Regions from separate parts of the Homo sapiens genome. Here region 2 is linked to region 1. The links come from fine-mapping of genetic effects on gene expression. A gene starts in region 1. The other region holds a variant in brackets. All regions are shown on one strand. Distances are from middle to middle.

The links. PIP is the estimated chance that this variant, and not a neighbour inherited with it, causes the effect. A credible set is the group of variants that fine-mapping cannot tell apart.
Region 2: its variant is the best candidate, but not a certain one, in a credible set for the expression of LGR4 in fibroblasts (GTEx, PIP 0.54).

Annotation. Positions count from the first base shown.
Region 1 is chr11:27,468,868-27,477,202 of GRCh38, forward strand. It overlaps LGR4 (leucine rich repeat containing G protein-coupled receptor 4), which reads right to left and starts at 3,923. Exons shown (of 18, transcript NM_018490.5): 1 at 3,251-3,923. The coding sequence starts at 3,435. LGR4-AS1 (LGR4 antisense RNA 1) reads left to right here and starts at 2,864. Exons shown (of 4, transcript NR_131170.1): 1 at 2,864-2,965; 2 at 3,911-4,090; 3 at 4,301-4,329. RefSeq lists silencers at 3,037-3,096, 3,347-3,516, 3,647-3,696.
Region 2 is chr11:27,206,999-27,215,333 of GRCh38, forward strand. All of the region lies in intron 2 of BBOX1-AS1 (BBOX1 antisense RNA 1), which reads right to left. Among named protein-coding and RNA genes, the nearest start is that of BBOX1-AS1, 7.6 kb to the right of the region's middle. The variant G/A (reference allele first, on the strand shown) is at 4,870.

The DNA.
Region 1 (8,335 bases):
TGTGCTCGAGGTCTACGTTTCTCAAACACCGTAGCAATAACACACAAACCAGAGGACTCACATACACATTCCCCTCCCCATGACTTCATCTCTTCTCCCAATCTTGGAATGTAGGTGATTGAGTTATTAGCACAAATACAGTAATAACCTTGAATCCTTCTGATTAAACTTCGGAATTTTAATATTAGTAAGATTACTGCCTTGAACACTCCTCGGGGTGAATTGTGACAGGCCAGTGCATTGTGACACAAGATTGAATACTGTTGTTCAAAAACATAAATAGTTGCTACAGGTGCAGCAAATGGTGTGAATACAGGAATCCCATTCACAGTACTGAGGATCACATCTGACGCTGTCCCCAGACTCCGGTAAAGCGGCTTTCACCAGGAAATAGACACTGTTAGACTGAACAAGTTTCAACCAGCCTCAAGGAGAAGAAGCAGGTATTCTCTCTCTGGGACCTTCTCAAATCTGGACAAAAGGCTAAGTGCTGAGAATGAATCTGAAAATCCCCTGTGGGAATGGTGTCTGAATTCCATGCCACGGTTCTGCTCCTCGGTGTGGCCTTGCATCCTTATTTATTCACTCCAGCATTTTTAAGTGCCTCCTATGTACCGGGCTCTGGGGATCCCAAGTTGAGTAAAATAAAATCACTGCCCTGTCAGTCCCAGGATCTTTAAAGTGAAATGCACCCCCCACCCCTGTCCCCAGGGAAGGTGAAAGCACTACTCCAGGACAAGCCATTGAGCAATGAGAAGAAAATGAAGAACTCTGATTAGTAATTATAGTTTCATCTTTTTAACTTCTACTTTCATGATTGTAATTTTCTGTATAACTACAGAGGTTTTTGGTTCACATGCTCCAGCAATTAAGAATAGGTGAACAAACGCTTAGAGACCACGGAACTAGTCTCCTGATGTGTAACTGTATCTCAGTAAAGCTGCGATGGGAGAGCAGACTGGAAGTACTTGGAAAAAGACCCTAGGTGATCGCAACATGTCCCATATATGATCGACTGGAGTGTGCAAACCTGCAGCACTGGCCTTGCTTCATACATTGCTTTTGAGAATCACTGAATGAGCTAGTTTCCCCATGAGTAAAATGCAAATATGCTGTCCTTGAAAACCCTTTTAGAGAGGGTGGTTATATATATTTTTGAGGGTGAAATGAGTACTAAGGAGAAATAAGGAGTCACCAGAATGTACGATCACTCTACCTACAGGTCACAAATCTAAGAAAATAAAACACATTTGCACACCACCAAAGCTCAGAAAGTGCTAAGATAATGCTAGTTTAGGCACTCTAATTGAGACTGGTACCAATTATTTTTCTGTTTCCTAAGCCATGAACACTAACTTATTCTAAGGCCCAAAGTTGAAGATACAGCATTTCACCACCTTCAGTGAGTTCTACCAGAAGATGCTTTGGAGAGAGGAGTATGCTCTCATAAAAGTGTGATTATTTCTCTGTGGTTTTAGATACTAATGTAAAACAGCCCGTTTCCTTATAGGACAAGTCTACTCACTAAAATGTGAGGAATCTGCTAAACAAGGTCTTTACTACTGGTCAAAATAGTAAAATTGTGCTTTTCTATTCTATGCAGAGCCTTGCAAGAGGTTCAGGTAAAGGGACCTTTCTTTCTGCATTTCTTTCTGCACGAATTCCCTAAACGTTTCTAGAGAACTTGGGGAAAAATTAGTCCCATTTCCTCTCCACAGGTCTTCTTTCTCTTGATTCAATCAATTCCTGCTCAAACTTTCCCACTTAATGTAACTTTATGAACAAAATGCTCTTCACTGCAAAGTTAACTTTTTTTTTTAATGACAAGTTAAACTTCACTATACTGAAAAAAAAAAAAAACCTCAAATACATAACTAAAACTAACCTGAGACAGGAAAAATAACAAATGGGGAGGGGAAGGCTGAAGGTAGAAGAATGAAACAGGTTCCAAGACAACAGGCCTCGATGCTCACTAAAAGTCCATCCTGAGAGGGCAAGCGGAACACCTTTGCCACCACCCACCTGGAAATACAGCAATGCTCCTGCCTGCATAAAGATTTCTTCACAGGGTCCTTTAAAACTGTCTATTTCTAAGAGGTCCCTTCCACTACAGGTAAAAGGAAATTCCCTCTACCCTAGGGCCCCTCAGGATCCCTTCCTCTCTCACACGTTTCTTCGACTGCTCCTGATTTAAGCATTCAGCTGGCCACGCAACGCAAGAAGCAATAAGAACACAAAAACCCTACCCTGTTCCTCCTCTATCCGTGGCCTTTGCCACCACCTCCACAACCTAGTTCAGATTCCTCTTCTTTTCTCAAGGGAACGTCTAAAGCTCTCAAGTCCGTTTTGGCAGGGCGATTTTGTAAGTCTGAAACATTTCAGTGTGTCTCTCGATCTCAGGCAGCTCAAAAGAAAAGATCTGCTGGCTGCGTGAAGGTGCATTAGAAACCTGCTGCTACCTTGCAGCCTGGGCTGAGCATATGCTCCGGAACTTGCTTCTCTTCCAACATCCTGCACCTCAGGTCAGCATTCCTTCTTTAAAAGGCCTTGTTGGGTAAGAGCATGTCCACCAACAGAACCCTGTAATTCTCCCTTGTTTTCTCGGACTCCCCTGCGTGCTGCAGAAGCCTGGGCGTTAGTGGGGTAGTCCCGAGTGGAACTGGGCCGAGGTAGGTGCCGGGACGCACTACCTGGATGGGGCCAAATTGGAAGGAGATTCGCCCTGACTGAGGTACAGGTGTTTCTTCTCCCCACATGCTGGAACCCAGGAGGCTCCAGGTGCTTCCCCACGAGACATGCCTCGGTATGCAGACTGAGGCCAAGTTCTCGGCGCCCTCAGCCCCGCCAGTAGCGGAACTCCTGCCCGCTGAGCGAGGGCCCTCATGAGAAGGGAAGGTCGCGTGGACAGGCTGCCAGGGGCAAGCGTTTTTAGATTACTTCCTCCTTCTTGGCCCCAGATGCACTTGTGAGTTGGGGGTGTGCGCGGTGGGGTGGGAGGGTGCTTGTGCCCAAAAAGTCTGGGAACGAAAGCTACTGCTGGCTCGAACCCGGACTAGCAAAGTGCGGAAAGCCCGTGGCACAGGAGTGGGTGCCAGGCAGCCCGCACGCAGGTGACCGGCGGACCCCCTCCCCAGGCCCGGGCGGCGGCGGGGCGGGGTGGGGTGGGACTGACCCCTGGCTCCGCCCCGCGGCGCCCCCCGCTGGGCCCCGTTTCCTCCCCCCCCCTCGCGTCCCCGCCGCCCGCACTCACAGCGCTTGGGTGAAGGCGCTGAGCCCCTCGGGCACGGCCGTCAGCCCCTTCCCGGAGCAGTCCACCCGACGGTCGCCGTCGCAGCTGCAGGGCGCCGCGCAGAGAGGCGGCGCCGCGCCGCTGGGCCCGGCCGAGCCGAGCAGCCCCAGGGCGAGGAAGCAGAGCAGCCCTAGCGGGCCCGGCATTGCTGCGGCCGCCTCCCGCGCCGGCCTCTCCCGCGGCGCTGCTCGCTCCGCTGCCCTCCGATGTCCCCCGCCGCCCCCGGGCAGCCGGCCTGCGGGCTGGAGCGGGGGTCTCTTCCTCGGCGGTCCGCGCGGGCTCGGCCCCTTCAGCAGTCCGCCGCAGCGGCGCAGGGACGCGGCGCTCCGGAGTTTCGCCCTTCCCGCTGCTCCATGGACGCGCAGAGGCAGCCCCGCTCCTCCGGCGGCTCACGCCAGCCGGGCCGGCCCGGCGCAGCGGCGGGGGCCGCGCTCTGCCATCGCACCGGTCTCCCTGTCCCTGGCCTCTCAATGCAGCGGCTCTTCAAGGTTGCAGAGCGCAGCCTTCAGCCATGCCGGCCACTCGCCCCAGCCCCCGCCGTGGCTCTCGCACAAACACCCAGACTCTGGCTCGCTGTCTCCCAGCCGCGGCTCAATCTCTTCCCGTCCTTTTCCCTTCTAGGGTTGCACGCTCTGGTTCCCAAACCCCCGGCCGCTGGCTTATGCAAATCACTTAGGTACATGCAAAAGTATCCCTTCTCCCGGAGCGCCATTGGCCCGGGGAGGTCTCGAGCTCATTACTATGCAGAGAGGAGAGCCGCCATTGGCCAAGAGGAGGACCAGAGGGGCGTGTTTCTCGGGCGTGAGTGACAAGGTGGTGGTGGTTGTGGTGGTGGCGGCGGTGGTGGTGGTGGTGGTGGCGGCGGTGGTGGTGGTGGTGGTGGTGGTGGTTCAAGGCAAAATCTTGACTTGGCTGGATTTGTCTGGCAGGTTGTGGATTGAAGGTAGAAGGATAGTAGGACAAGGGGTCTAGTTTTTCCCTCCCCCACCCGTCTTTTTGTTCCCTCCGCAGAAATTGGATCTCCTAAATTGGATGACCTGGTAAGTAGAACTTCCCTCCAGCGTTCAGTTAAGTTTTAAATGACTCTCCGCTGTTCCAAAGGGCGAGGACGTCTGGAGCTCTGCAAACGGAAAAAAGATTTTGAAGAGGAGGAAAAAAGTTTCCCTCGATCTGACACACATCTTTGGGTTTTAGCTATACACTAAGTTAAAAGTGTACCCTCTCCAGTGCCTCACTTCACCTGGGATCTTTACACCTATCTTGATACACATTTGGTAGCTAAGTCTTAGCAATTCATTCTCCCCAGTCCTCTCTCTGTATTTGGTGTTTTTGGTGACTGCAAATTAGACTCCTTTCTCACGCACTTTAAAATCCTGAAACACAGGAATTTTGTAAAAGGTCAGAGAAAGTGATGTTTCTGAACACTGGACAATTTCCAAAACATCTGAGTGGGAGGTGACTACGGCTGAGAAGCCAGCAGCAACGTTGGTGTTAGGTAATTATCAGCATTCCCTCCTCTTCTGGATTTTGAGTCCCTGTGGCCTAATAGACCCCACGGAATCATTACCTGTACCAACTACGGCTTTAAGGGTACTTCGTTTCTTGCTCTCTGCCATGGCGTTGAGTCGTTTTACTCTATAATGGAGACATTTTTAATGAATACATTAAAACAAGCAGGATTCGGCCGGGCGCGGTGGCTCACGCCTGTAATCCCAACACTTTGGGAGGCTGCGGCGGGCGGATCACCTGAGGTTGGGAGTTCTAGACCACCCTGACCAACATGAAGAAACCCCGTCTCTACTAAAAATACAAAATTAGCCGGGTGTGGTGGCAGATGCCTGTAATCCCAGCTACTCGGGAGGCTGAGGCAGGCGAATTGCTTGAGCCCGGGAGGCGGAGGTTGCGGTGAGCTGGAGATCGCGCCATTGCATTCCAGCCTGGGCAACAAGAGCAAAACTCTGTCTCAAAAAAAAAAAAAAAAAAAAAAAAAAAAAGCAGGATTTAAAGATAATTATCATATAAAGTTGACTAGCCATCGTATGTAAATAAAACTTAGGACAATGGAAACAGGTTGATGCAGACCTATAAGTTTAAAATGAAAAAATTTTATCATCTTTGTATTTGGGAGTTTATCTAAAAGATAATGTCAGGTTGGGCACATAAGTCACATACAGTAAATCTGTCTAGAAGCTAGAGAGTTAATAAATAAACATATGCCTTCATTTCAAGTTTTAGGAATGACATATCTCCTCTCACTGCAGGGCTGAAAGACAACTTAAAGACCCCCAGAAAACTCTGGTTTTATAGATAAGAAATCTGAGGCTCGAGAGAGAGTGTGTTCTGCCCAACATCATCACGGAACAGCTCCTGGGCTCCTGGCTCCTAATCTGGTACTCTTAGAGCCTTCCCTAAATAGGCTTTCATCGTCTAAATCATTTCCATTATTTTCTAGCAACTGTCATGAACAAATAAGGAAGAAATTGTAAAGTTAGTTTCTGTAATCGTTTCTTTAAGATCTCTTCTTTTTTTTTTTTTTTTTTGAAACGGACTCTCACTCACTGTGTCCAGTGGCGTGATCTTGGCTCACTGCAACCTCCACCTCCCGGGTTCAAGTGATTCTCCTGCCTCAGCCTCCCCAGTAGCTGGTATTACAGGTGCCCACCACCATGTTTAGCTACTTTTTTTTTTTTTTTTTTTTTTTTTTTTTTAGTAGAGATGGGGTTTCTCATGTTGGCCAGGCTGGCCTCAAACTCCTCACCTCAAGTGATCCACCTGCCTTGGCCTCCCAAAGTGCTGGGATTACAGTCATGAGCCACGGAGTCCGGCTTATATGCAAATCTTGATTAAAAATGCAGAATGATTTAGTAGGCCTAAGTGGGGCCCAGAAACCAGCATTTTGTTGCACAGCAAGTGAAAGTGACACAGGTGATTCATGAACCACACTTGGAGAACTTTATTCTTTGTCTTCAAATAATAAAATCTTATGGCTGAAAACTTAGGTGAAAGGAGAGATTTATATTTTGAAAAAAGGGGAGATGCAGATTTTACTAAAAAATAAATTCCTATTGTCTATTAGATGACAAATGTAAGAAAGGAAGATTCAAATTTGCAGCTTAGCCAAGAAGATAAAAGATCAGGAACAAAAGACTTGGGTAGGGAACAGAAAAGATAAGATATATTGAAGTGTTTGTATTTCTTATTTGGTACATTTTGTATGCTTTGCATTAGAGATACATTGGTCAATTAGTCTCCATCTCTTGGATAAGATGTCCCAAGAAAGTATAAAGACAAAAAACAAAAAACCAGTGATTAAGGTAATATCTCAGATAACTAGAGAAAAATGATCAGCTCTTAAATAAATCATAAGGACTGGAAAGATACTGAGATAAACCAAATAAAAATTGACGGCAAGCAAAAAATAATAGGGTCTCTGTCTACAGATCGGTTCCTCTTAAAGTTTTCATTGGTTGTGTGTAAGTAAATTTGCGGCATCCACAGGCTAGATAAAAAATAGAACTGGGCTGCAACCCCTCTGCATATGTGGCATGGAGCTTATGGGCCATGAAGAAAGTACCCTATCGTAGTGATACTTGCCTTGGTGTCTTTGTGCAGAGCACACAGGACTTGTTGACTGATGGATAAGCTGGACTTCGGTTCTACCACCCCTTTACCCAAGAACTCTTGTAAACATAGAACCTGAACAAGTATATGCAGAGGCCCTACCTGTTGGGTGAACGGTTCAAGGTGCCCTGTTACAACAACAGCTCAGATACAGTGGGGGCTCTGAGTGCTGTAATGATTGACTGGATAAAAGTCCTCAAACATGTAGAATTTCACTTTTTATGAACTATTTCGACTTAGAAAAAGAGTTAACAGCAATCAGCTTAAGAAATATTACGAATGTAGTTGAAGCTCCCTTTGTACCACTCCCCAATCATATTCCTTTTCTTCCTCTCCCTGAGAAGTAAGCAGTTTCCTAAACTTTGTAGTTAATTCCCATGCATATTTTCATGCTTTTCGTATGCATGTATCCCTAAACAATAAACAGCATTGTTTTTCATATATAAATCAACATCATTGCGTACTGTTCTGCAACCTGCTTTTTCACTCAACCTGTGAGTGTAATCGACATTCACGAACTATGAGGCTTGTAACTTCATTTTTATTACTATATAATATTCCACTTAATGAAATGCCCAGTGTGTTAGGGTTCTCCAGAGAACAGAACCAATAGGATATATATAGAAATACAGAAAGAGATTTATTGTGAGGCACTGACTTATACAATTATGGAGACTAAGTGACAATCTTCCATCTACATGCTGAAGGCCCAGGAAAGCTAGTGGATTTGTTTTAGTCCAAACTTGAAGGCCTGAGACCCAGGGGAGTCAATGATGTTTTGGTCGAAGTCTGAAGGCCTGAGAACCAGGAGCAGTGAAGTCTGAGGGGAAGAGAAGACAGATGTCCCAGCTCAAGCAGAAAGCAAATTTATCTTTTCACTCTTCCACCGTTTTTTGTTTGTTTGTTTTTTTAAATGGTGTTTTGTTTTGTTTTGTTTTTGAGATGGAGTCTCTCTCTGCGGCCCAGGATGGAGTGTAGTGGTGTGATCTCAGCTCACTGCAGCCTCCACCTCCTGGGTTCAAGCGATTCTCCTGCCTCAGCCTCTCAAGTAGCTGGGACTACAGGCATGCACCACCACACCCAGCTAATTTTTGTATTTTTAGTAGACAAGGGGTTTCACTGTGTTGGCCAGGCTGGTCTTGAACTCCTGACCTCAAGTGATCCACCCACCTCAGCCTCCCAAAATGCTGGGATTACAGATGTGACCCACTGCACCCGGCCTTCCATTGTCTTTTTGTTCTATTCAGGCCCTCAATGGGATGCACAAGGGCATCTTCCTACTCAGTCTACTGAATCTCTTCCAGAAATACCCTCACAGACACATCCAAGATGTAATGTTTTACCAGCTATCTGGCTATCCTTTGCCCAGTCAAGTTGACACATAAAATTCATCATTATACTCAGTATTTATTTATCCATCCTCTT
Region 2 (8,335 bases), 260 kb before region 1:
CAAATCATCTCCACTATGTTTTTGAGATTGCTTTTCAGTGTGATCGTTTATTTGGGAAAGAAAACAAAGGGGACTTTTCCTGTTTTTTTAAAAAAAGTTGAAAACTAATTCCTCTTTTTTCTCCCCCAGAAGAATAATGCTTATGCCTAGAGATAGAATGTGCTTTTTCTGTGGTCACACCATGACAAGGCAACAAGCCCAGTGTTTACTCAACTGCAGCCCCACTGAGTGCTCAGGAACCTCCTCCTCTGAGCCAGGGCTACAACTTTGGGCTCTGACGCATAATCTGGCACTAAATATTTGATGAAAAGCTTTGTCACTCAGCCATTCAACAAATATCCCCCAGGATGGATCAGACACTGTACCATGCATTGGCAATGAAGGGATGAATGCACCTCAGTCCCACCACTGGGAAACTCAGGGACTTACATTACAGTGACTAGAATTATGATATGCAGGGCAGGTTCTGTGGTTTGTTTGACCTCTCCAAACCTCATGCTGAAATGTGATCCCCAGTGTTGGAGGTGGGGTCTAATGGGAAGTGTTTGGGTCATGGGAACAGATCCCTCTCAATGGCTTGGTCCACTCCTCATGGTAATAAATGAGATCTTGCTTTATTCATTCCCACAAGAGCTGGTTTCTAAAAAAGACCCTGGCACCTCTCACCTCTCTCTCTTGCTTCCTTTCTCACCATGTGATCTCTGCACAGCCATCTTCCCTTCCCTTTCCTCCATGATTGGAAGCTCCCTGAAGCTCTCACCAGAAGCAGATGCTGGTACCATGCTTCTTGTACAGCCTGCAGAACCATAAGCCAAATAAACCTCTTTTCTTTATAAATTACCCAGCCTTGGTTATTCTTTGATAGCAATGCAAGCAGACTAAGATGGCAAGACAGATCACAGACAAAGGCTACCTAGCTCAGTCCTACCTAGCTCATTTCCAGGAAATGACATCTAAAATAAGGTGTGAAAGATAAGTGAAAACTGACCAAGCATAGAAGAAAAGAATATTGTTTTTTTGTAGAAGGAATAGCAGGGAGAGAAGAAATGGATAGCTTCCATGAGTCAAGAGAATGGATGAAACACAGGTTTTAAAGAGATGGTGGTCAGGATAGTTGAGATAAGAGAAGTAAACCAGAGTGGCTACAAAGGGCCTTACGAGCTAAGTTTAAAATTCACTTGAGTTTACTATCCCTGAATGTCCATTACCTCATTACAAGGGGAAGCCATGGAAGGTCTACTCTAAACTGACATAGAGAGATACCAAGCATGGGGCCAGGACAGAATAGGAACACAATAAATACCTGTTGATTCTGAATTCAAGCTGGTGATTCGTATAATCAAGGTATGTGAAAAGTGCAATGGGAGCAAGGAGGAGGGACGGGCTAGCTCTACCTGCAAGGGATGGGAAGATTCACAAGCAGGCAAAGTTGGCTTGGGCCTTAAAGGGTGAGTACGACAATGGGTGTGTTAAGTGACTTGTTATTTTTCTCTGCAATCTTCTATTAGCACATACTGACAGTCTTTGGGGTCCATCACACTCTCAAAGACCTTCATGCCTTGAAAATCCTGCAAATTCACACCTCTATTTCTAGTTTTTTATTTTGTACTAATGATGTATTATCATACTATAATGTTGGACTAGCTTTCCAAAGGCATGCGGTAGAAACAGGCCCCATCCCCAACAACCTTCTTCCTTACCAACAAAACATTAGCTTTATTCAAGACAGAAAAGTGCCAGCCCTGGGTTGGTGGGGGTTAAATCGTGATTGACCTAAGTCAGTCATGACTATTTCATTAACATTTGCCAGACACTCACTTTTCCAGGCTCCCTTGCATCTAAGGGCAGTCATGGGACCCAGTTCTGGTCAATAATATTGTGGTCATTTAGGTATAAGAGTGAATCAGCTGGGAGGGCTTCTGGGATACTTTTGTTTCCTCACTGATAAAATGACATAGTCATTCCAAGAAAAGGATCTTTTGCCACTCCACACTCCCACTCCTTGTCACCTGTCTACTTTTGAATACTGTTGTAATATCTGGAGACACGGCAGCCATCTTGAAACCATGAGAAACAGGCAGAAGAATCAATGACCTACATAAATATAGAGATGAAAAAGTGCCCGTCAACTCAATAATACTGTGGAACTGCTGTTCTCACTTTAGACTACTTATCTCCAGACTTCCTATTATGTGAGATAATCAAAGTGATATGGTGTGGGCCACTATCCGTCAGGGTTTTATTACTTATAGCCAAATAGATTTTAAATTATATAGATGTTTCCAGAAAGAGGACTATCTTTCTTCTCACCAGGATTATGAAGCTCTAAGACTATTAATAAAATGGCCAACTAGCCACACAAAGATGCAAGATATTGTTTTCCCAATCCAGAAAGCAGAAAACTTTCTTCCTTTAATCTTCCCTTCCCAATGATGACTCTTCCTTGGCTGGGAGGAGATGTTTGCACTTCAGATTTCATACCTCCAAATATTACCTATTGCTTCATTGCCCTTTATATTTGGCCAGGCCTTTATTCATGGTGGCCATTCTGGAGACCCCAGCTGGTTAGGAAAATTGAACTTGTCAAAAATCAGAGTGAGATTCTCCTTGGCAACTGCAAAGGTAAGCTGTCACCAGCCCTGTCAACAGTCACAGCAGAAAGAGAGCTATTTATTCATCTAAGACCTTCATGAGTCACAGTCTAAACATTCTGCAAACCCTCCCCTGGCAAGTCATACCCTGCCCCAGTCTCTGGGGAGAATGCTTCCCACCCAGAGCCACTTCAACACAACAGACTCTTGGCTTTGGCTGTCTAATCTTTGGGCTGCACAAGTGGTCATGTTATTAATGACTCTGAGTCATCATATAGGGTATTTCATCTGGAGTGTGTGTAAAGAGGAGGAAGATGGAGGGCTACTGTAGCCCAGACAAGAAGTGAGGCTTCCCCTTGCTATGCCTCTACCTCACTGTGTACCCTTCAAAATGCAACCAATTTCTTGCATTATAATGCTTCAAATCTCTCCACTTCTTGGTGAACTCCTTTTTTTTTTTTTTTTTAATGAGATTGAGTTTTGCTCTTGTCGACCAGGCTGGAATGCAGTGGCGTGATCTCAGCTCACTGCAACCTCTACCTCCCAGGTTCAAGTGATTCTCCTGCCTCAGCCTCCCAAGTAGCTGGGATTAAAAGCACCCACCACCAGGCCCGGCTAATTTTTGTATTTTTAGTAGAGACAGGGTTTTGCCATGTTGGTCAGGCTGGTCTCGAACTCCTGACCTCATGTGATCCACACGCCTTGGCCTCCCAAAGTGCTGGGATTACAGGCATGAGCCACCGCGCCCAGCTGTGACCTCCCCTTTTAATGCCCTCTTGTTTGTCCGTGTCAAGCAGCATTCAAAGAACTGAACAGTACCCAGATGGGTTTGCACAGTGCTGAGGGTGAGAGAGATGGCAGACAAGGGTTCTGTTTTTTATATATATATATATTTTTTTTTTTAATTTTAAGCCTAGGTTTTTAATTATACTTTTTCATTTTTGTTTTAAATTTCTGCTCCATGCCAGTGTATACAGTGAATATGACCATGCCCTTTGAATGTTAAGCCTTGATGGCACCTTTCATGCAGAGCTTGACTCCGTGTATGTAGTTTAGTTGTTACTTCTTTCAGGAAGTCTCCTCTTATTTATTTAAGTGGTGCTCCGTTTATGAGTCCCTATAACACCTGCTACCTTCCTTAACAAAAGAGTTTATCACACTGGTAATTTGGTCACTCCTGTGACTGCAAGGTCTGTAAGAGCAGGGTCTATCTCGTCACCTATGTCAAGAACATTCTCTGACACATAGTGGGCACCTCAACTAACATATAGCGAGTGAGTGAGTAGATGGGCCACCTTCTACAGCCTTCTACAACGGAGCAAATCCCAAAACTGGCCTTCAGGCCCCCAGACTTGGCCTAGACTTGGTAGAGAAGATGAGGACAGGACTGATCAGAGGGATGTTTCTGATATTCTATCATTCTGTGGTCACGGCAACATCAATACCTTGTGGATATGGACCAAGGCTTATAGTTTCCTGTCCAATAAAAGAGAATCTGGCTGGCCACAGTGGCTCAAACCTATAATCCCAACACTTTGGGAAGCCCAGGCAGGGGATCACTTAAGCCCAGGAGTTTCAGATCAGCACAGGTAACGTAGTGAAACCTCATCTCTACTGAAAAAACTAAAAGTTAGTCAGATGTGTTGGCATGTTCCTGTAGTCCCAGATACTGAGGAGGCTGAGGCAAGAGGATCACTTGAGCCTAGGAGTTCGAGGCTATAGTGAGCTATGATCGCACTACTGCATTCAGCCTGTTCAACAGAGTGAGACCTTGTCTCAAAGAAAGAAAAAAAAAAGATGGAAAAATAGGTCTTAATATTATACGTTTGCTGCGGAGATTAAAGGAGATTGCATGCTCACAGTCTGTGACCCATAGTAAGTGTTCAATACATGCAACTGCTATTATTACGAGCTAAGAAGGGACTAAGAACCAAAATCAATGTTTCTTCCTGTTATAACATAACCCTCCCACCTGAATGTCTGCCCCCTTGTGGTGTTGCCAGGGAATGCTAGGATTTATCTGGCTATCTTTCAATGCCTAATATGACACCTAATTTGAAATCACCTGGCACTCGCACACACAATGTACGCTCTTTTCCTTAAATCCAGATTGTACCTATTTACCTGGACGTATCCAGAACTTGCACTGTGGCCTTTTCCAGATGCAATCCAGCTTTTAAGATTTTATGTGTAATCCCCATCTCTCCCGACCTTACTGGACTTTGCCTCTGGACTCTCTGGAGTATGAGTCCAAGCAGCCCTCATAGACTCTGGCATG[G/A]GTTTGTCTGCTGACTCTCCTGGCTCCCCACTTCCTTGATAGGAAGTTCTCGTCATGTCTTCAAGTTCCTCTCAGCTGAGACCACAGCCAACTAGCCAGCTGGCTTCCTGGTTGAACAACCAACACCCCTGGGTCCAGCACAGAAATGGTACCCAGGAAAAGTGTATGGAATCCAGTGTCCTTATGTTTCCTGTCCATTTCCAGTTCATCACTGGGATGGGGCTGAGACCTTATCCTCAACAAGGCTAAAACCTCCTCTGAAATGGCTATGTGCCTCACACCAAAGGACAAGAAAATTGCCCATTGGTAGGCAAATGTGAGTGTGGGAGTGAACCCCAAAAACCTATCAATTACCCTGACCCGAAAAAACACTATCAATGTAAAATGCAGCCCAGAGAATAAACATATCCCAAACCAGTTTCAAAGTGTGATTGACACCAGATAAATTCATTTTGGGGGGACCATGTTAAAAAGGGGAAGGGAGAAACTCGTTGAGCACCATATGCCTGACATGTTCTCACATAATCCACACAACATCCTGTAACCTTGATAGCTCTGTCTTTAAGGTGAGCTGTGAAACTCAGATCAGATTAGTAATTTACCCCAAAAGTTACATATTAAGTGACCAAACATGGATTCAAGCCCATATCTGTCTCCAAGCCCAAGGTCTAAGAACTCTCATTCTCCCATACTAGCCATAAAAAGGTAAAACTCCCCTTCTAGAGATGATTACCCATAACATCTCCCCTTGGTAGACACTCTGTCTTCTCCTTTCCTCTGCAGACTTTCTGTTGAGATCCTGCCCAGCCAACCAGCCAGCGGGCTTTATTCTTCTTAAGGCCTTTAAGAAGGCCCTCTCTACTTAGAAAGGCAGTAGCATAGAGCACAGTCATTAAATCTGGTTCCAGAGCCAGGTAGCCTAGGTTCAAATCCCAGTGCCACTACTTACCAGCTTTGTGACATTGGACAAGGTATTTAGAGTGTCTGTGCCTCAGTTTTCTCTTCTGTAAAGTAGGGGCAATAGTAGTAACCTATCTCACGGGTGGTTGTGAAGATTGACCGAGTTCATATGGGGCTGACATATATTAAGTGCTCAGTAAGTTTTAGCTACCAGTATTACAAGTTAATTTTATAAAAATTTGACAAGGCATTATAAATTTCATTGGGCAGATGAGGAAACTGAGGCAGAGGACGGTTAATATCTTGTCCATGGTCACACTGCTTATCACAGGGAAAGCCAGGATCAGTTGAAAAGAAAAGGGGGGTCTCCCAATTCCTTACCCAGGGCACTCTGTCCTCCTGCTCACTTAACCAAGAGGCAGAAAAAGCAATTTACCTGTTAATACAAGACATAATCTCCCCTCCCTGATGTTCTCCCTGTCACATGAACCACAAAGAAGTCACCACAAACATCCATTTATTTATAAACCTACAACATTAGCCTCTTCACTTAAAAGCCTCTTGGTAACTTGCTGGTTAAAAGCGTTTCAGATTCTGTCAGAGAAACAAGCTCACACTGACATCTTGTCTCCATATGCCTTTGAAAACCTGCTGAGAGTCCCTTAATCCCTCGCTGAGGAACGTTCCTCTGCACTGTGTTCTTCTAAGGTTTCCACCGTTGGGTGTGGGTATTTTCTGAAAGCTCTCTCTTTTGAAAAATTCCCATGCTTTGAGTCATGCCAAAATCAGAGGGAAATGAATGCTGCCAAAAGTCCCAACATTTACATAAGCTCTTAATCAGCCCTCTGGTTCATTACAGTGTGACATATCAGTTACACTGCTGTTCAGGCAAAGAAATGGGGTCTTGGAATCTGCAGAGGGCCCTGGAAAATTGTGTTCTCTGAGTGGAAGTGGAGCAGGTTCCAGCTTCTCCCTTTATAAAAGTTCGATCTTGGCTGCATTTGTGTTTACGTATTTAGTAAATATTTATTGGTTTCTTAATATGGGGACCATAATAATTGATGGAGAGACAATAATAAGTAAAAAAGATATGACCCCTGACTTTATGAAGCTTATAGTCTAGATGGACAACAGACACTAATCAAAATAAAGGATACTGTGAGAGTATCTAGTGGGGGACATAAACTTGACCCCATCTGGGGTTCAAGAAAAGCTTCTGCTAGTGAATGATGTTTCACCTGGAATCTGTAGGTCTGGGGAGCAGGAACGTCTAGGCAGTGTAGTACAAAGCGGGGTAGATGAAGTAGAGAGAGCAGAGAAAATGAAGATAGATGAAGCCAGTGAGCTAAGTACATCTTTATTTTAGAGCTATGGGAAACCACTGAGAGCCTGTAGCCACCGTGTCTAAGGGCGTCACCATCCTGATTATTATAAAATATTCTCCCTGTATTATGGTTATTTCCCTGTCATCTCCTACCCTGATTGGCATAATAGCTACTATTTTGCTAGCACTATTTTATATATACACATATATATATTCACATTATATGTGTTTTTATATACAGAGAGACTACACACACACACACACACACACACACATATGGTCTCACCAATCCTCACCCCAACTCTATAAAGAATATACTATCATTATGCCCATTTTACCGATGAAAAGAAGGCTCAAAGACAGCAAATAATCTGCCTATGACTACACAGATGAGACAGGTTGGAAGGCAGGTCTCTCTGATTCCAAGGTCCAAGTTTTTAACAAGTCAATACTGCAAGTTCCCTGCAGTCAGCAGCTGGGTCTTTCTGATTCTGCTTGGTTTGCTAATGCCTGGCCCACAGGCATTACAGGTGTATGGAACTAACTTCCTTGCTTGTCCAAGCCTCCTGTCCCCTACTCCTCACCTAATCATAGGTGACGCTTCTAAAGCCCTTACTTACTGCATGCCAGCTATGGTTCTAGTACTTCATGCATATTTGCTCATTTTCATTTTTGCCGCAACCTATGAAGTAGGTACTATTATTTTCATCCTCTCCATTTTTCAGATAAGAGAACTGAGTTGCAGAAGCATTAATAGCTTCACCAAGGACACACAGTAATAAGCGGCCCAACAAAGATTCTAACCCAGGCCGACTGGATCCAGAGCTTGGACTCCTAACAACTAGAGATTATTGTTCCTTTCGCAATCCAGCCACATGAACCTCCTTTATATTTAATGCAAAATATGCATTGTTTTTCACCTCCAGCCTTCTCAAATGTCAATGTCTCTTCCTATGCATTCGCCTACTCCACCTAACCTCACTTTCCCTTGGGCTCCCTCCTATCCATCCTCCAGGATTCTTGGTCAGGGTCAGCTGCCCCTTCTGTGTGTGCTACCCCATCACCCTGTGCTTCCCCTTCCCAGCACTCAGCACATAAACTGGGTATTTCAACTACAGGTTCTCTGTCCACCTCCCACCCTTGACTTGAAGCTGCACAGGACAGGGTCCAAGCTACCCAGGCATTTCTATATCTACAATGCCTGCAGCTTGGCGGGGGCTCTATCATTACTGTGAAATGACC